Regions from separate parts of the Homo sapiens genome. Here region 1 is linked to region 2. Evidence: fine-mapped QTL for protein levels in blood plasma. Region 2 holds a variant in brackets. A gene starts in the other region. All regions are shown on their forward strands.

Region 1 (8,301 bases), not on the chromosome of region 2:
CAAAACAAGGAAAGAAGCAAAGAAACAAAACTCCTCTGATGATGTCAAGCCTCCACCGTTCATTCTGTGTTTATTTCATTGTATTTTTTAACTTTATTTATTTTTTTGGAGAGGGGTCTTGCTCTGTCGCCCAGGCTGGAGTGCAGTAGTGCGATCATAGCTCACCATAGCCTCCAATTCCTGGGTTCAAGCGTTCTACTCCCTGAGTTCAAGCCACCACCGCACCCTGCCTCAGCTTCCCAAAAAGTTGGGACCACAGGCACGTGCAATCGCGCCCAGCTCCACCATTCATTTTTTGTGTTAAGCATTGCTTTCAAGCTGTCTTCTTTTAAAATAGCCACATTCAGAAAAGTAATGCGCAGAATTCCTATACTTTGGTAGGATTTACGGTGAACCTGTTGCCCCTCCCTTTCTTTGCACATTTTATGTTTTCTGCTTCCCTGGCTGGTGAAATCTTCATCAGGACCCTGCTCAGTGTCGCCTCCTCTCTGCGGAGTCCTCCAACTCCACCTGGCTGGGCAGTTGTACTTTGTTCCTCCGTAATAAAAATAACCATTAAAAAAAAAAAGAAGCTGTTGTTTATTAAGCAATTACTATATGCCAGGCAATAGGATGTGCACTTTTCACTCACTATCTTGTTGAATACTTCCCAAGGGCCTCGTGAGGTCAGTTTTTTATGTATCCTTATTTTAAAGATGAGGAGACTGAGGTTCAGAGGGATTAAGCCCCTTACTCCTTTGGTAAGAAGTAGAACCAGGATAAAAACGCAGATGGCAGGACCACAAAATATGTGCTTTTAACCAGGACACCGCAATAGTATTCATCGTGCCCCAACGTACTCCAGGGAGAAAATGAAAGTGGGGTGACAGCAAATCTCAACCCAATGGAATGACCTCTTAAAGTTGAAAGGGAAGGTGTTTGGATCCTCCTGCATGGGTTCAAATCTCCTATGTGATAGAGTATGTTTCTGACTTCCAATAAAGGGCCTGCAGGCCTTAGAGATGTTCTAGCCCCTTGCTTTTCAATGTGTACTCCAGGGACCCCAGTATGAGCATCGCCTGGAAGCTTGTTAAAAATTCAGCATCTCAGGTCCTACTGCAGATCTGCTGAACCAGAATATGCACTTTAGCAAAATTTCTAAGTCAGTCCTGTGCATATTGAGTCTAAGAAATGGACTTAGAATGAAGACAATGCAAGTCTCAAGTGCGATAGGAGGATTGAGATCACCTCTGACAGGTGCTACATTGCTTCCCCCACACATTCACACATACACGTGCATACACACATATACAACGCACACACACTTTTCACTTACTTGCTTCTGAGGTGTCAGTGGCTGCAGTTGTGATGAACCAAGAGGCCACCACCACCATCAGCATCCAAGTCAGAGATGGCTGCCCCATCCTTTCTGCTCTTCCCGCTACTTCAGGTCTAGATAGCACCTGCCCAAAGGAAAGACGGGTTGGCCCTTTGAATTTTTCTCTCTGTCTCTGATGTCTGGTGTCCTGTGAACAGAGATGGATGGGACAAATGCATGATCTAACTCTCCTCCCCACAGCTGGAAGGAGTGCTTTGATTGTATAGTATACAACTCCAGGAGGTGTCACTTATATGGACTAAAAAATTGCATAACACTGCAGCCCTTGTTTTGCTGGGACTTTACCCCTTGTACTCCCCCTCCTTACCTCACCAACATCCCAGTCTTGGCTCCCCAATTCTCAGCACATTGCACATTTTGAAGAACTCAGTCATTTGGAGCAGGAAGTAGCCAGATGGAATAGTGTTCTGGACTCACCACTTTACTGAAGGCAGCTTTGGATTTTAACTGATCCTCTGCCTGGAAACTTTCAATTTGCCTGGATCACTTATTCATTCAACAAACATCTATTGAGTAGCTACATTGTGCCAAACAGGGAGCTAGTCACCATGGAGAACAATGAACATGGCAGTCTGCTCCTTCATGCAACTCACATATCGTAAAGAAGTGGCTTGAGACGAGCAACTTGAGAGGTAATTAACCTTCACAATGCATTTAAATGTTTCTGGAGTGGTCACTTACTATTTCTTCCAATTGGAAAAATAGTCCAGGGTGGATGCCAGTATTACCCCAGTGTTTATAGCAGCAAAATAGGGTGGCATGTTGGTTAAGTATGTAGGAGCTGCAGCCTGCACCTGAGGTTCAAATCCCTGCTTTACTGATCACTAACACTGTGATGTGGGTATTTCAGTTTACTAAGTCTCCGTTTTTGTCTGTGAAATGGAGATTGTTGCTTTCACAAACTGAATATCTATGATGGGCCAGGCTCAGTTCAAAGACATTCATGTGCTCAAAGGCATTGGGTCCTAGAGCAACGTTTTCCAGATCTTCGTGACCATGATGTACTAAAAGAAAAACATTTTATGTTGCCAGGTGCAGTGGCTCATGCCTGTAATCCCAACACTTTGGGAGACTGAGGGGGTGGATCACAAGGTCAGGAGTTTGAGACCAGCCTGGCCAGCATGGTGAAACCCCATCTCTAATAAAAATACAAAAATTAGCCGGGCATGGTGGTGGGCGCCTGTAATCCCAGCTACTCGGGAGGCTGAGACAGGAGGATTGCTTGAACCTGGGAGGCAGAGGTTGCAGTGAGCTGAGATCGTGCCACTGCACTCCTGCCTGGGTGACAGAGAGTCCATCCCCCCCCCCCAAAAAAAAAAAGACAGAAAGAAAGAAAAACATTTTATGTCATGATCTAGTGCAGTCGCTTCTGCATGTATGTGCACACACACATAAAATTTTATAAGACAATTGATATCCTTACTACATTAAGTGATTTAATTCTTACCACAACCCTATGAGATAAGTATTATCCTAGTTTGCAGATGAGAAAACAGGGGGACAAAGAGGCTAACTGCTTGCCTCAAATTTGTATTGCTTACTGACATATTCTATTATATTTAATTAAAAGAAGTCCCTGGATATAACCCACAAAAGGAATGATTTTATGACCCGCTAATAAGATGCGACCTAAAACACTGCATATTGTCACTGGGATTAACTAAGATGACATATGTCGAGCAGGGCCCAGCACATAGCAAGTTGTTCATTGTTGTAACCCTGGTACCTGGCACATAATAGGTGCATAACTAATATTCATGGAATAAGTCAAAAAATAGTAGTCATTGTTACTAGGACAGAGAGGATCAAAGAGAGGAAAACTAACTTACTAAAGATCATGAAGCCAATAATTGGCAGAATAATGACTCAAATCCAGGTCTGACCCCAGTGTCCAAGGTCTTAATTTCCTCTCCTACCTCCCTCAAATAGGATGGGGAGAAGCTGGGCTAGGAGAAGACAGCTACAGATAGCCTTACCTGAAGCCAGAAAGGTAGAGTTAGTCTGGTCATGATGTGCCTCATACTTATATATACACATTTGCCCCAGGCTGGCAATCTCTCCTCCAATTAGTCTCTAGTTCTGTTTTTTGATATTGTTTTCTTGGGGGTGGAATATTTTTTCCTCCTGGCATAATGTTTGCCTTGTCCAAGCTGTGAGGTTGTTGTTGTTCTTTTTCCTAATAGCTAGAGACCCCAAATGATTGACATTGGGGGGTCACACCTGTGCCCGGAAATACAAGGTCACTGTTTCGCACCTTCTAACAGCAAGAGATTCCATAGTTAGAAATTAACTGGGAAAGCAGTGCCAAGGTGCTGGGCTTCTTCTTGGTCACTGACAAGGGCAGGGTGGGATCAAGGAGCCAGGCAGAAGCCAGTATCTGAAGCCAGGCTGCATAAGGACAAAAGGGATATTCACTGCCCCAGATGGGAGGTGCACCTGTCTTGGAGAGGGCACCCTTCTGAAACACCCATTCTCATGAGATCAGCCTTAGAATCCAGACACAAGCAAGAGAGGAGCTGAGAATGGCTGAAAGTCAGAACCAGAAGGTAGTTCAGACATCACTGGACCTGACCCACTCTGTACAACAAAGAATCAGGTCTGATGACTGGGAGGTCCCTTTGGAGGCGAAATAAATTTGCACTTAAATAGACTGACTTTGGAGTCAGTCTGCCTCCTTTATCTGGTGTTTATTGTGTGGCAGTGGGCTCATTTCTTAACCTTCCTGAGGTCCAGAGGTCAATTTCCTTGTCTATAAAATGAGAATACCCATCTCCCACAGTAGTAATAGTAACCAAAGGAGATGATGCAAGTAAAGTCATATAGTAATGATTATATTCATGGAAGTAGTGAAAATTCTGCTTTGCTGTTGTGCAATCACTGAGGTAGAAAATGACAGAGCCTGAGTTAAAACCATGTCTTCAGACCCAGTTCAACATACATGACATTCCAAAAGTCAGTGTGAGAGTGGCTGTCATCATGTTGAGAAAAATAAAATATGTGTGAACTTGGGCTGAGCAGGAAAATATCACCATGATCACTGCATTGATCTTTTTTTTTTTTATACTTTAAGTTTTAGGGTACAAGTGCACAACGTGCAGGTTTGTTACATATGTATACATGTGCCATGTTGATGTGCTGCACCCATTAACTTGTCATTTACATTAGGTATAACTCCTAATGCTATCCCTCCCCGCTCCCCGCATCCCACAATAGGCCCCTGGGTGTGATGTTCCCCTTCCTGTGTCCAAGTGCTCTCATTGTTCAATTCCCACCTGTGAGTGAGAACATGCGGTGTTTGGTTTTTTGTCCTTGCGATAGTTTGCTGAGAATGATGGTTTCCATCTTCATCCATGTCCCTACAAAGGACATGAACTCATATTTTTTATGGCTGCATAGTATTCCACGGTGTATATGTGCCACATTTTCTTAATCCAGTCTATCATTGATGGACATTTGAGTTGGTTCCAAGTCTTTGCTATTGTGAATTGCTCTTTTCAGGACATTTCTCCATCCTGTCCCACTCAGTGGTAGGGTAACCACTGGCACTGGTGTTGTCATCTCCTCAGGATTATGTCCAAGGAGTGGAAATTCTGGGTCAAAGAGGTAGCACAGCTGTAGGAATATTGACTCCTCTTCCCAAACAGCACCCCAGAGAATTATTATAAATTGGTTTACAATCCCACCAACACTACTCACCAGTTCTGAGCATTGGTAACTTGCTTTCATCTTTGCCAAAAGGATAAGTGGAAACGATCTCATTATTGTTCATTTTTGCAATTCTTTGATGAAAAGGGAAGTTATCTCTTCATTTATTTACTTTTTTTTTTCTGAACTAGTCGTTTTTATCCTATACCTTTTTCATGAGGCCTTGTCTAAACCTTATTATGGGTGTCTTCAAAGGATTAAAGACAGTGACCCCAGGTGGCTTCTGGAGTTTTCTTGACAAAGACTTGGGCAGGAAAATGGGGAGTTTGGGTTGGAATCTATTCATAAGTGTAATCACCATGCTTTCTAGTTTCTGTATTTGGTGCTTGTACATTTTGGGGCCTTACTGATCATGGAGGGACTGCCCCTCCCAGGGCTCAATAATTACTAGAGATCAAAAACGACTTATCTGTGAATGTGCCTTTCCGACTGCAAATCAATCAATCCAGACCACATACCCCCAACCCTTGGCCTCCTTTTTGGGGCTTTTACACTTAGGGTCACTACTTGCTGCTTTAGATCACCCCAAGGGACCAGGTACCAGACAACTAGAGACAACTCCTATGGCCCAGAGGTCTCTGAAATTATTCAAACTAAGCCAATCCTAAATCTGCTTACCTTGCCTCTCCCATTCCTTCCTGCAGAAACTACAATAAAGGCTCTTTCCTGCCTTTTCCCTTGCTCTCTTTGCTTCCTGACCGACCCTGGTACTTCCCAGCAGCTCTTCCTCTCCCTTCAGCCCCTCTGCCCAGTGTGGTGTGTCCCCTTCTCTTGGGATCTGTGAGTATAACAAGTTGTCAGTGGCCATAATTTCCTGCTCTGTTGCTCATCAAGTTCACCAAAGACATCCATGTTACCAAATTCAATCAATATTTTTCTCTTTATCTTACCTCTAGGACAGTGCACAATAAATATTTGTTTTTGAACGAACCTTAATCTCTCAGCACTTCGCTCTTGAAACACTCTTCTTTCTTTCTTTCTTTTTCTTCTTCTTTTTTTTTTTTTTAATGGAGTCTTGCTCTGTCACCCAGGTTGGAGTGCAGTGGCTCAGTCTTGGCTCACTGCAACCTCCACCTCCCAAGTTCAAGTGATTCTCTTGAATCCTTGAATCCTCAGCCTCCCGAGTAGCTGGGATTACAGGTGCATACCACCATGCCCGGCTAATTTGTGTTTTTTTTGTACACATTGGCCAGGCTGGTCTCGAACTCCTGACCTCAGGTAATCTGCCTGCCTCGGCCTCCCAAAGTGCTGGGATTACAGACATGAGCCACCACAACCAGCCTGAAACACTTTTCTCTCTTAACTTTCAAACATGGGTAGGAGACTTGATCTTAATAATGCTGAGAACAATCACCCACTGAGCACTTCTCTTGGGTCAGACACTGTGCTCAGTGCTTTTGCCTCCATTGTCTCAAACAATGAAACACAACAACCCACGTCACAGGGAAGAAGACAAGTTCAGAGAGGTGGAGTAACTCCCCCAAGATTACACAGCTAGCGAGTGTTAAATCCAGACTAAAACTCAAATCTCACTCAGATTTACCTGCATTCCTTGGGTTACAGAACATTCCATGCTCAGCCATGACAGGGTCTTAGAAGGATAAGTGGTTTTAGGTAGTTTTGGAAAGAGTGAAACTAAAGGGTGGAGAGTTTTGAAAAATTGATCAAACAGAACACAAAAACTTAGAATGAGAGGTTGGTGTGTGTCAGAAAGCGGCAAAAAATGAGCCAAGGGAGAAGATCCCCCAAAAGAGGGGTATTACCTGTCCCACCTACCTCTCTGAGCACACACCTCCTGAGGCTCCAGTTACGCCTGGGGGACCTGGAGGTGGCACACCCATTCTCTGGCTCGTGGCCTGTCAGGGGCTCTATGCCACATGATCTAGTCTAGGCAGCCCCCCGTAACCCTCCTTCAACTGGCAGCCACATGACCTCAAGGCCGAGGCAGGTGAGCCTTACACCGTGTCCTGAATACTAACACCTGCTCCTGTTGGGGAATTCGGCTCAGGTGAGTTCCAGAGCCGCAGGCTGTTCCCTGCTTCCTCTGGTTGTGGACAGGCCAGGTTCAGGGTGAGGGGCATGGGAGCTGTCTCTGGAGGTATGAGAAAGCACAAATAGCCTTTGCCTTACATGACAGGTGAGGAGTGGAGAGACCCAGGTGGTTTCTAGAGACCTCAATTTCTAAAAGAATGCTGCCCTTCTTTTCTCAAGAGAAGGCCTGGCTGAAATGAATGACACAAATCCATGAGTTAAATCTGTGGTAGGCTGAATAATGACCCCCAAATACGTTCACCTCTGAATCCCCAAACCTGTGTGTGTTGCCTTTTATGGCAAAAGGGACTGTGCAGTGTGATTACAGATCCTGAGATGGAGAGGTTGTCTGGGCAGGCTGGATGCAATCACAGTGGTGCCTATAAAAGTGATGCAGGAGGAGTCAGAGGAAGTAGGTGTAAGGATGAAATGAAAAGTCAGAGTGATTCTAGGACAGAACCATAAACCAAGGAATGCAGGGGCCTCCCAGAAGCTAGAAAAGGCATAGCAGGGAATTCATCCAAAAGGGACTAACTCGTGAATTTAGTCCAGTGGAATTGATTTCTAATTTCTAGCCTCCAGAACTCTAAGAGAGTAAGTTTGTGTTGTTTTAAGCCACTTAAGTGTTAATTTGTCAGATCAAAAATAGGGAACGAATACAGATTCCAGTTTGGATCTGGGGACAACACTGTCAGCACCTCTGCCTTTTGGGATGACTATGAAATTATGTATTTCTCACCTAAAATGGAATATTTGATTGATCCACGAGCATTTATTGAGCATCTACTATGTGTCAAGCAGAGTTCTAGGCAAAGGGAATACGGCAAGAAAAAAAACAATAGATATATCTACTTTCGTGGAGCTTACATATTAATTGGAGAATCAGGCAATATATCATTGCACAACAAAATAAGATGCTTTCAATTTTTAGTCTCCAGGAATGCCTTTTGGAGGTGGTGACAGGTGAGCTGAGATTTGAACCAAGAAAAGAACATGGCTATGTGAGGAACTGGGGGAAATGTATTTTGAAGGGAGTGCATTTAGGCAGAGGGAACATGAGGAGAGAGTGAATTTGGCTTGTTCATAGAGTAGACAGGAAGTGTGGCTGGGGCCTAGAATGTGAGGGGGAGAGGGAGAGGAGGAGATCTGTGGGGCCAGACCTTTCAAGGTGTTGAAGGCATGGTAGG
Region 2 (8,345 bases):
CTGCCTCAGCCTCCCGAGTAGCTGGGACTACAGGCGCCCACCATCATGCCCAGCTAATTTTTTGTATTTTTAATAGAGATGGGGTTTCACCGTGTTAGCCAGGGTGGTCTCGATCTCCTGACCCTGTGATCCGCCCACCTTGGCCTCCCAAAGTGCTGGGATTACAGGTGTGAGCCACCGCGCCCAACCTAAATGTACTTCTTCTGATAAGCATTCTTGTTTTATTTTAAACATTCTACGTGCCATATCACCTTAGAAAGAATCCAGTATGAATATATTATAAAGTTAAGTGAAACTTGTGAGTTGTATTCAAAGGTGACACCTTTCTTCTTCCCAGCTATATGACCTTTGGCATGTCACTTAATTTCTCATTTTCCCCTTTTTTAAAAAATTATTTTCTAAGGTCTCCCCTGCCTCCTTTCTCTAAGGTGTTTGTGAGAATTAAGTGTTGAGCACAGTCAGCAACAAAATTTGGGGGGATTATCTATGGAAATGTTCTATATCTAGATGTGATGGTGGTGGTGATTTCACAGGTACAAACACTTGTCAAAATTAATCCATTTTGCACTTTAAATGAATGCAGTTTATCATACATAAATTATATCTCAGTAAATAGATTAAAAAAGAAGAGTATACTGCTGAGGCACATCATGAGTGTTAAGTAATTGTTAATTTGTTCCTCCATTCCCTTCCCTTTTCATATTCACTAGAGAAGAAAAACACCTGGGCACTATTCCCCATATGAGAAGCCCTAAAAACTTCTTGAGATAATTGTGAGGTTATTTCTCTCTGCCTCCTCTCCTCCATACTACATCCCAGTATCTTTAACTTTTCCTATGGATTTTACTTTTCTATCCTTTTATGTAGCTAGATCTTAAATCTAGATTCTATACTTCTCATTTCAGTTAAAGAACAAGAAAGAGTAATTCACATGTGTTACAAAATATCTTTAGATCTTGGGTGTTAGCTCCACAGTATAGGGCAGTACTATGATGTTAACTCATATACTAAAAGACGTTTATTATATACATTTAAATCCTATTCAACCAAACTCATAGGAATCAGGCTACAGAAGTACTATTTTGAAGTTTTTTATGGGTCACTGGCTGTATCTATACTCCCACAGTGAATTATATTATTTTAAAACAATAGTGGCTAAGATACCCTTCTTTTTTATTTGCTACCACCATTAGAAAAACTTAACCCTTCTTTTGCTTTTTAACATATAAAGTGTAAGTTTTGGTGCCAACTCAGTTATCATGTGTTTATGTACTAAAAACTCAAAATAAAATATATCATATTAGGTTTTTTTGATTAGCAAATTCCCTAGCTGTTTTGCCAGTAATATTAAGCATAGACTGCCTTCCTTAAATTGCTAAAATCAAAGAGTTCACTAAAAGGGATTATTTTTTAAAAATGTGTCTAGGCTAGGAACTACCATTAGCAATTTTCAGAATAAACACCTTGATTAGTGAGATTTTTATGTGCTATTTTATTTTGTTTTTGTTTTGTTTTAAAAGGATAATTTTCCCTAAATAAATATGAATATGCCTCACATCTTTTCATCTTACACTTTTTGTTTACTTTTTATCACTTCTCAAAGAAGTTAGTAGACAATAAAAAATAAAGTTAACATCTCCCCCTAGTCCATTTCACTCACCTACAAAATGGGCTGGGAATAGTAGGTATCACATAACAAAGCCCCCCATTCAGGCAAAACGACTTGTGACTGGGACCACAGGGCTCTTCGTGATCTAGAACACATACATATATAAAATAGAGAAAAGCAAATTAAAGTTTTCCTAATGCAACAAGGAATAGGAATAACTATCTTAAACTGAAGTAGCAATTCTGAAAATCAGAATGAAGAATTTTTTTTCTCAAAATGAAAGATTTAATTCTATTCCTTATTTGACAGACTGGGACTTCTATGTCTTTGAGAGAAAAATTATGTCCTAAAGATATGGCCATTAACTATAATGGGTTTAGACATTATATAACAGAAATAAGGAATATCTATATTAGTTAGATTAAAAGGAGGTGATCAGCATCTTAGAACAAACAGGGCCTTTCTCACTTACTACAGAGATTTGGCAGTATTACCTAGCATTTCCCTGTCCCAAGAATTTATTTAAATTCTTGTTTTCCCTATTAGGTCTCAAATACATTAATATCTGAAATTGCAGCTGGTAAAGGATTTAGATAATTAACTTTTTATTTCCAAAGTTAACTTTAAATGTTCCTATATGACAATCTAAATGTCAGAAACCAAAAATAAACTTATAAGGTGTTGATTTGCAAAGTGTTTTAGGTAACAGTTACTAACCATAAGGCATATCTAAAGTTGCAAAGAAAAATTAAAAAGCTAAGTCATAGCTTGATATACAGCCAAATCTTTCAGAATATTAAGAAAATAAACCTCTACTTCTCTCTGACTTCTTTTCTCTCTTTCCTCTTTCCTCAGCCTCATCTTCCTTCTTTATGACCTTTCCTTTATCTATCTTTCTCTCTCTGCCTTCCCTTTCTCCCTTGGTACCTCTCCTTCCTTCTAGCCTCACCCCCAAGACCTTTTATAAAAAATCCCTGTCCACCAAAGCCATTGTATAGAAAAAATTAGAATAACAGAAGGATTCATTGAGTCATTATACTAGTAATTTATGAAGAGAAAATTGGTGAATATCTTATCTTCCAGCCTTAAAGGGGAAATTACATTGCTTTAAACTTGTACATTGTTAGTTCCTAATTGTTTCTGTCTAGGAAATGACCCAGAATCATCTAATCAGAATAAGAAAATGGCATTACTCTCCCACTGGGACTCCAATTTGACATTAAAATTAGTATATTAATTTTAAAAATTATCTAGCATTTATGTGCCACTAAGATATCAATACTTGCTAAGATATAATTGCTATGAGTCAGATATCTCCACAATCAGAATTTCAAATTTTAAAACTTTTGTTCTACTTTAGAATTGAGAAAATCCTGTTTCAGCATCACATTATAGCCCTAAGAGTATAAAAATGTAAAGACGAAATCAGAACTACAGAGAACTGGTGAAAAAGAAAGTAAAATCAACCAAAATGAATGCTTTTAGATTTTTTTCTTTTTTACACAATGCCATGCTTCTTCGTAATCAAACAACTTTCAACAAGATTATAAAATTTTTCAGGAATAATTTGGCTAAAAAATAAAATTAACATTACATCAGCATCAAAGGCGTCATCATATATGGTTTTCCACTGAGGGTGGAATGTAACTTTATCACAGCTAAGATTAGTGTCCTTGTTTTAATTGGATTATAGTCAGACATATCTCAACACTTGGCATTTATTTTATCAATAAAGAAAACTCATCTAACCTGAATCATTATTTCTGAATCTACTTTTATTCTGACTTCTATTTCCTTATTATTTGAGCTGATTTCAGATATAGGACAAGCTAGAATTTATCAGGTTATAAAACCAATAAAACACATATATCTAAAATAAAATAGCTTTATGTCACAAAGGAAGGTCTCTCAAAACCAAATATTTCATATTTGAAATATTAATTTCATATTCACATCTCTTCCAATGATGTTGGAAGGGAATAATACAGCCTTGTGTTAATATACATTTTTGATTGTTGTTCTATTGCTATGGACACATATTGACAAAAACATATAAATATATAAGAAATTACCTGTTGGCATCTTAATTTGTAAATAGTTTCATTCTTGGTCAAGAGAGTAGGGTTGAAAAACAGTACCTAAAACGGTTTAAAAAGTAATAATTCAGGGAAAATAGTCTTCTTTTAAGGGCATTATAAAATGTCAAATATTCTAATAGCAATATTCTTAAATGTTGAAAATAAAATAATAAAGACATTTATATACTAGGGACAAATTTTAGTTACAGCATTTTTAGATACCTATTGCATTTCAGTAAAAAATATGAACAAAACTAAAAGATCAATAACGTACTTAATATAAATCATTGCCTAAATAATGTAATTTAATCTTAAATATCTCTCTGCAGAAAAGTCTAATAAGGCTTTTTTTCGTAAACATTGTTAACATAGTAGAGTACTACATGGAATTTTACATGAACGATGAGACAGTAAGTAAAACTGAATGAACTGAACCTTTAAAACTTTTATAAAAGCACTTTTAAGTTTACCATAGATTGCACATTACATTTACCAACCTATGCAAACCTTTCTTCTAAAAAATGTCCAGGGCTGATAGGTGCGGCAAACCACCATGGCACACATGTTATAAACACACTATGTAACAAACCTGCACGTCCTGCACATCTATCCCGGAACTTAAAATTAAATTTAAAAAAGAAAAAAAATGTTAACCCCACACACACACAAAAATGTCTGGCATCTGGCAAAGCAATGTAGCTAATAAGACATTCTTACATATGAAGTTTCCTGCTATAACAGAAACAAAAGAATTCAAACATATATTTGAAGAGGTGAAGCATTTATACTTACATTATGATTACAAGCTCCCAGTTCTGTTCTATAAAGAACACTTCTGACCTAAACAGAAAGACTCTAACAGAAATCTCAATCTACTAACACAGTTGTAATACCAAGGTCTTCTCTCAAAGCCAACAGCTCTTTCTTAGACAAGC[A/G]GAGAGGCAGAGAAAGCGAGCAAGCAATCGAGAGAAACACACACGAGCGAGAACAGGCAGGAAGGAGAACATTAAATCTATTTGATTTTTAAAAAGCACTGACTCATACTGTTTCTTTTTTCCAAACAAACAGGACTTACCCTCAATAAAAACTTACATTCACACAAAAAATAAATTTTGTTGGACATGCAGTGTTTCAAAAGTTTTTGAATACCGCAGACAACAGCAGCTGTGACTTGCATTTTATAACATGTCAAAAATCTGATTTATATGGCTGCAGTGTGCAGTGTGGGCGAGGTCACGCCAGACCAAGGTGTGCACAGAGGTCAGGCACTGGCCACGGGAGCCACCCCTTCAATTTACGTGTTCAGAGTTGCAAATGGAGCAGAATTTTATTTAGAAAAGGAGTTGAACTAAGCTGCACTTCCAAATTACTGTCCACGTTTTAAAGGTAAAAACCAAACCACATTCCTTAGACTCCTTACTTATCTTTGCTTGTCTGAATAATTCAAGACGTAGTGTAAGTTTGGGAGAAAAGAAATTTTAATGTGGAGCTAATAGATAAGTGTTTCACAAATTAAAAAAACATTTTTTTAAATTTATGTTTTATGAGGTTTGTGTTACCTTACAAGCCAGATAAAATTTATATAAATAATGACCTGAAGAACTTATAAAGCTAAAAGAAGGTAATAGCTATAATAAAACTTGTAACACCAAGTTCAATTTGAAATGAATAAAATCACTGAACTTGACTAATACCAATGACAGTGTAATGCCTGAATGCTATGGCAAAGTTGTTAAATATACAGTGAGGAAAGTTAAGTTTTAAAAATCATAAACAATTTTAAAATATTGACTAAAACTGTAATTTTGTTTAAATGAATATAGAGTTCTTCATCATATAATTATCTAAAATATGCCAAACATTTAGATGGTTATCTTTTCTAAAACGACAATTCAGACATTATTACTTGACTGATGTAAAGCCCAAACTAATAAGTTTGTTTTGTTGTTTTAAGAAAATATTAAAATAAACTCAAAATCAAATACTCTAAAAACAATCTGTTCATTAGGAGAATGGTGTGAACCCGGGAGGCGGAGCTTGCAGTGAGCTGAGATTGCACCACTGCACTCCAGCCTGGGCAACAGAGTGAGACTCCGTCTCAAAAAAAAAAAAATGTTCATTATTACATTTTTAAAATTATACTTTAAGTTCTGGGATACATGTGCAGAATATGCAGGTTTGTTACATAGGTATACAAGTGCCATGCTGGTTTCCTGCACCCACCAACCTGTCATTTACATTAGGTATTTCTCCTAATGTTATCCCTCCCTTAGCCCCCCACCCCGACAGGCCCTAGTGTGTGATGTTCTCCTCCCTGTGTCCATGTATTCTCATTGTTCAATTTCCACCTATGAGAACATGCGGTGTTTGGTTTTCTGTTCTTGTGTTAGTTTGCTGAGAATGATGGTTTCCAGCTTCATCCATGGCCCTGCAAAGGACATGAGCTCATCCTTTCTTATGGCTGCATAGTATTCCACGGTATATATGTGCCACATTTTCTTTATCCAGTCTATCATTGAGGGGAATTTGGGTTGGTTCCAAGTCTTTGCTATTGTGAACAGTGCCGCAATAAACATATGTGTGCATGTGTCTTTATAGTAGCATGATTTATAATCCTTTGGGTATATACCCAGTAATTGGATTGCTGGGTCAAATGGTATTTCTAGTTCTAGATCCTTGGGGAATCACCACACTGTCTTCCACAATGGTTGAACTAATTTACACTCCCACCAATAGTGTAAAAGCATTCTTATTTCTTCACATCCTCTCCAGCACTGTTGTTTCCTGACTTTTTAATGATCGCCATTCTAACTGGCATGAGATGGTATCTCATTGTGCTTTTTGATTTGCATTTCTCTAATGACCAGTGATGATGAGCTTTTTTTCATACGTTTGTTGGCCACATAAATGTCTTATTTTGAAGACTGTCTGTTCATATCCTTCACTCACTTTTTGATGGGGTTGTTGGTTTTTTTCTTGTAAATTTGTTTAAGTTCCTTGTAGATTCTGGATATTAGCCCTTTCTCAGATGAATAGATTGCAAAAATTTTCTCCCATTCTGTAGGTTGCCTGTTTACTCTGACGAGAGTTTCTTTTGCTGTGCAGAAGCTCTTTGGTTTAATTAGATCCCATTTGTCAGTTTTGGCTTTTGTTGCCATTGCTTTTGGTGTTTTAGTCACGAAGTCTTTGCCCATATCTGTGTCCTGAATGGTATTGCCTAGGTTTCTTTCTAGGGTTTTTATGGCTTTACGTTTTAGGTGTATGTCTTTAATCCATCTTGAATTAATTTTTATATGAGGTGTAAGGAAGGGGTCCAGTTTCAGTTTTCTGCATATGGCTATCCAATTTTCCCAACACCATTTATTAAATAGGAAATCCTTTCCCCATTGCTTGTTTTTGTCAGGTTTGTCAAAGATCAGATGGTTGTAGATGGGTGGAGTTATTTCTGAGGCCTCTGTTCTGTTCCATTGGTCTATATGTCTGTTTTGATACCAGTACCATGCTGTTTTGGTTACTGTAGTCTTGTAGTATAGTTTGAAGTCAGGTAGCGTGATGCCTCCAGCTTTGTTCCTTTTGGTTAGGATTGTCTTGGCTACACAGGCTCTTTTTTGGTTCCACATAAAGTTTAAAGTAGATTTTTCTAATTCTGTGAAGAAAGTCAATGGTAGCCTGATGGGGATGGCATTGAATCTCTAAATTACTTTGGGCAGTATAGCCATTTTCAAGATATTGATTCTTCCTATCCATGAGCATGGAATGTTCTTCCATTTGTTTGTGTCCTCTCTTATTTCCCTGAGCAGTGGTTTGTAGTTCTCCTTGAAGAGGTCCTTCACATCCCTTGTGAGTTGTATTCCTAGGTATTTTATTCTCTTAGTAGCAGTTGTGAATGGGAGTTCACTCATGATTTGGCTCTCTTTGTCTGTTATTGGTGTATAGGAATGCTTGTGATTTTTGCATACTGATTTTGTATCCTGAGACTTTGCTGAAGTTGCTATCAGCTTAAGGAGTTTTGGGGCTGAGATGATGGGGTTTTCTAAATATACAATCATGTCATCTGCAAACAGAGACAATTTGACTTCCTCTCTTCCTATTTGAATAACCTTTATTTCTTTCTCTTGCCTGATTGGCCTGGCCAGAACCTCCAATACTATGTTGAATAGGAATGGTGAGAGAGGGCATCCTTGTGTTGTGCTGGTTTTCAAAGGGAATGCTTCCAGCTTTTGCCCATTCAGTATGATATTGGCTGTGGGTTTGTCATAAATAGCTCTTATGATTTTTGACATGCATTCCATCGATACCTAGTTTATTGTTTTTAGTTTTTAGCATAAAGGGGTATTGACTTTTATCAAAGGCCTTTTCTGCATCTATTGAGATACTCACGTGGTTTTTGTCATTGGTTCTGTTTATGTGATGGATTACGGGTATTGATTTCTGTATGTTGAATCATCCTTGCATTCCAGGGATGAAGCTGACTTGATCGTGGTGGATAAGCTTTTTGACATGCTGTTGGATTCAGTTTGCCAATATTTTATTGAATATTTTCACATCGATATTCATCAGGGATGTTGGCCTGAAGTTTTGTTTTCTTGTTGTATCTCTGCCAGGCTTTGGTATCAGGATGATGCTGGCCTCATAAAATGAGTTAGGGAGGAGTCCCT

Direction of the effects. Alleles are on the strand shown, and positions count from the first base shown. The strength of an association depends on the size of the effect and on how common the allele is.
For the plasma level of the protein whose gene starts at base 3,381 in region 1, allele G in region 2 goes with a lower level than allele A (weak association).

What was found. A credible set is the group of variants that fine-mapping cannot tell apart. PIP is the posterior inclusion probability: the model's chance that the variant is causal. Protein levels are from antibody-based Olink assays in UK Biobank. Linkage for the fine-mapping came from a reference panel and not from the study's own genotypes, which makes the PIPs less certain.
Region 1: UMOD starts here. The variant in region 2 is the best candidate, but not a certain one, in a credible set for the plasma level of the UMOD protein (UK Biobank, PIP 0.59).

What each region holds. Positions count from the first base shown.
Region 1 is chr16:20,349,335-20,357,635 of GRCh38, forward strand. UMOD (uromodulin) reads right to left here and starts at 3,381. Exons shown (of 11, transcript NM_003361.4): 1 at 3,355-3,381; 2 at 1,316-1,505. The coding sequence starts at 1,403.
Region 2 is chr15:76,007,540-76,015,884 of GRCh38, forward strand. NRG4 (neuregulin 4) reads right to left here and starts at 4,885. Exons shown (of 6, transcript NM_138573.4): 1 at 4,780-4,885; 2 at 3,682-3,747; 3 at 1,661-1,754. The coding sequence starts at 3,691. The variant A/G (reference allele first, on the strand shown) is at 4,623.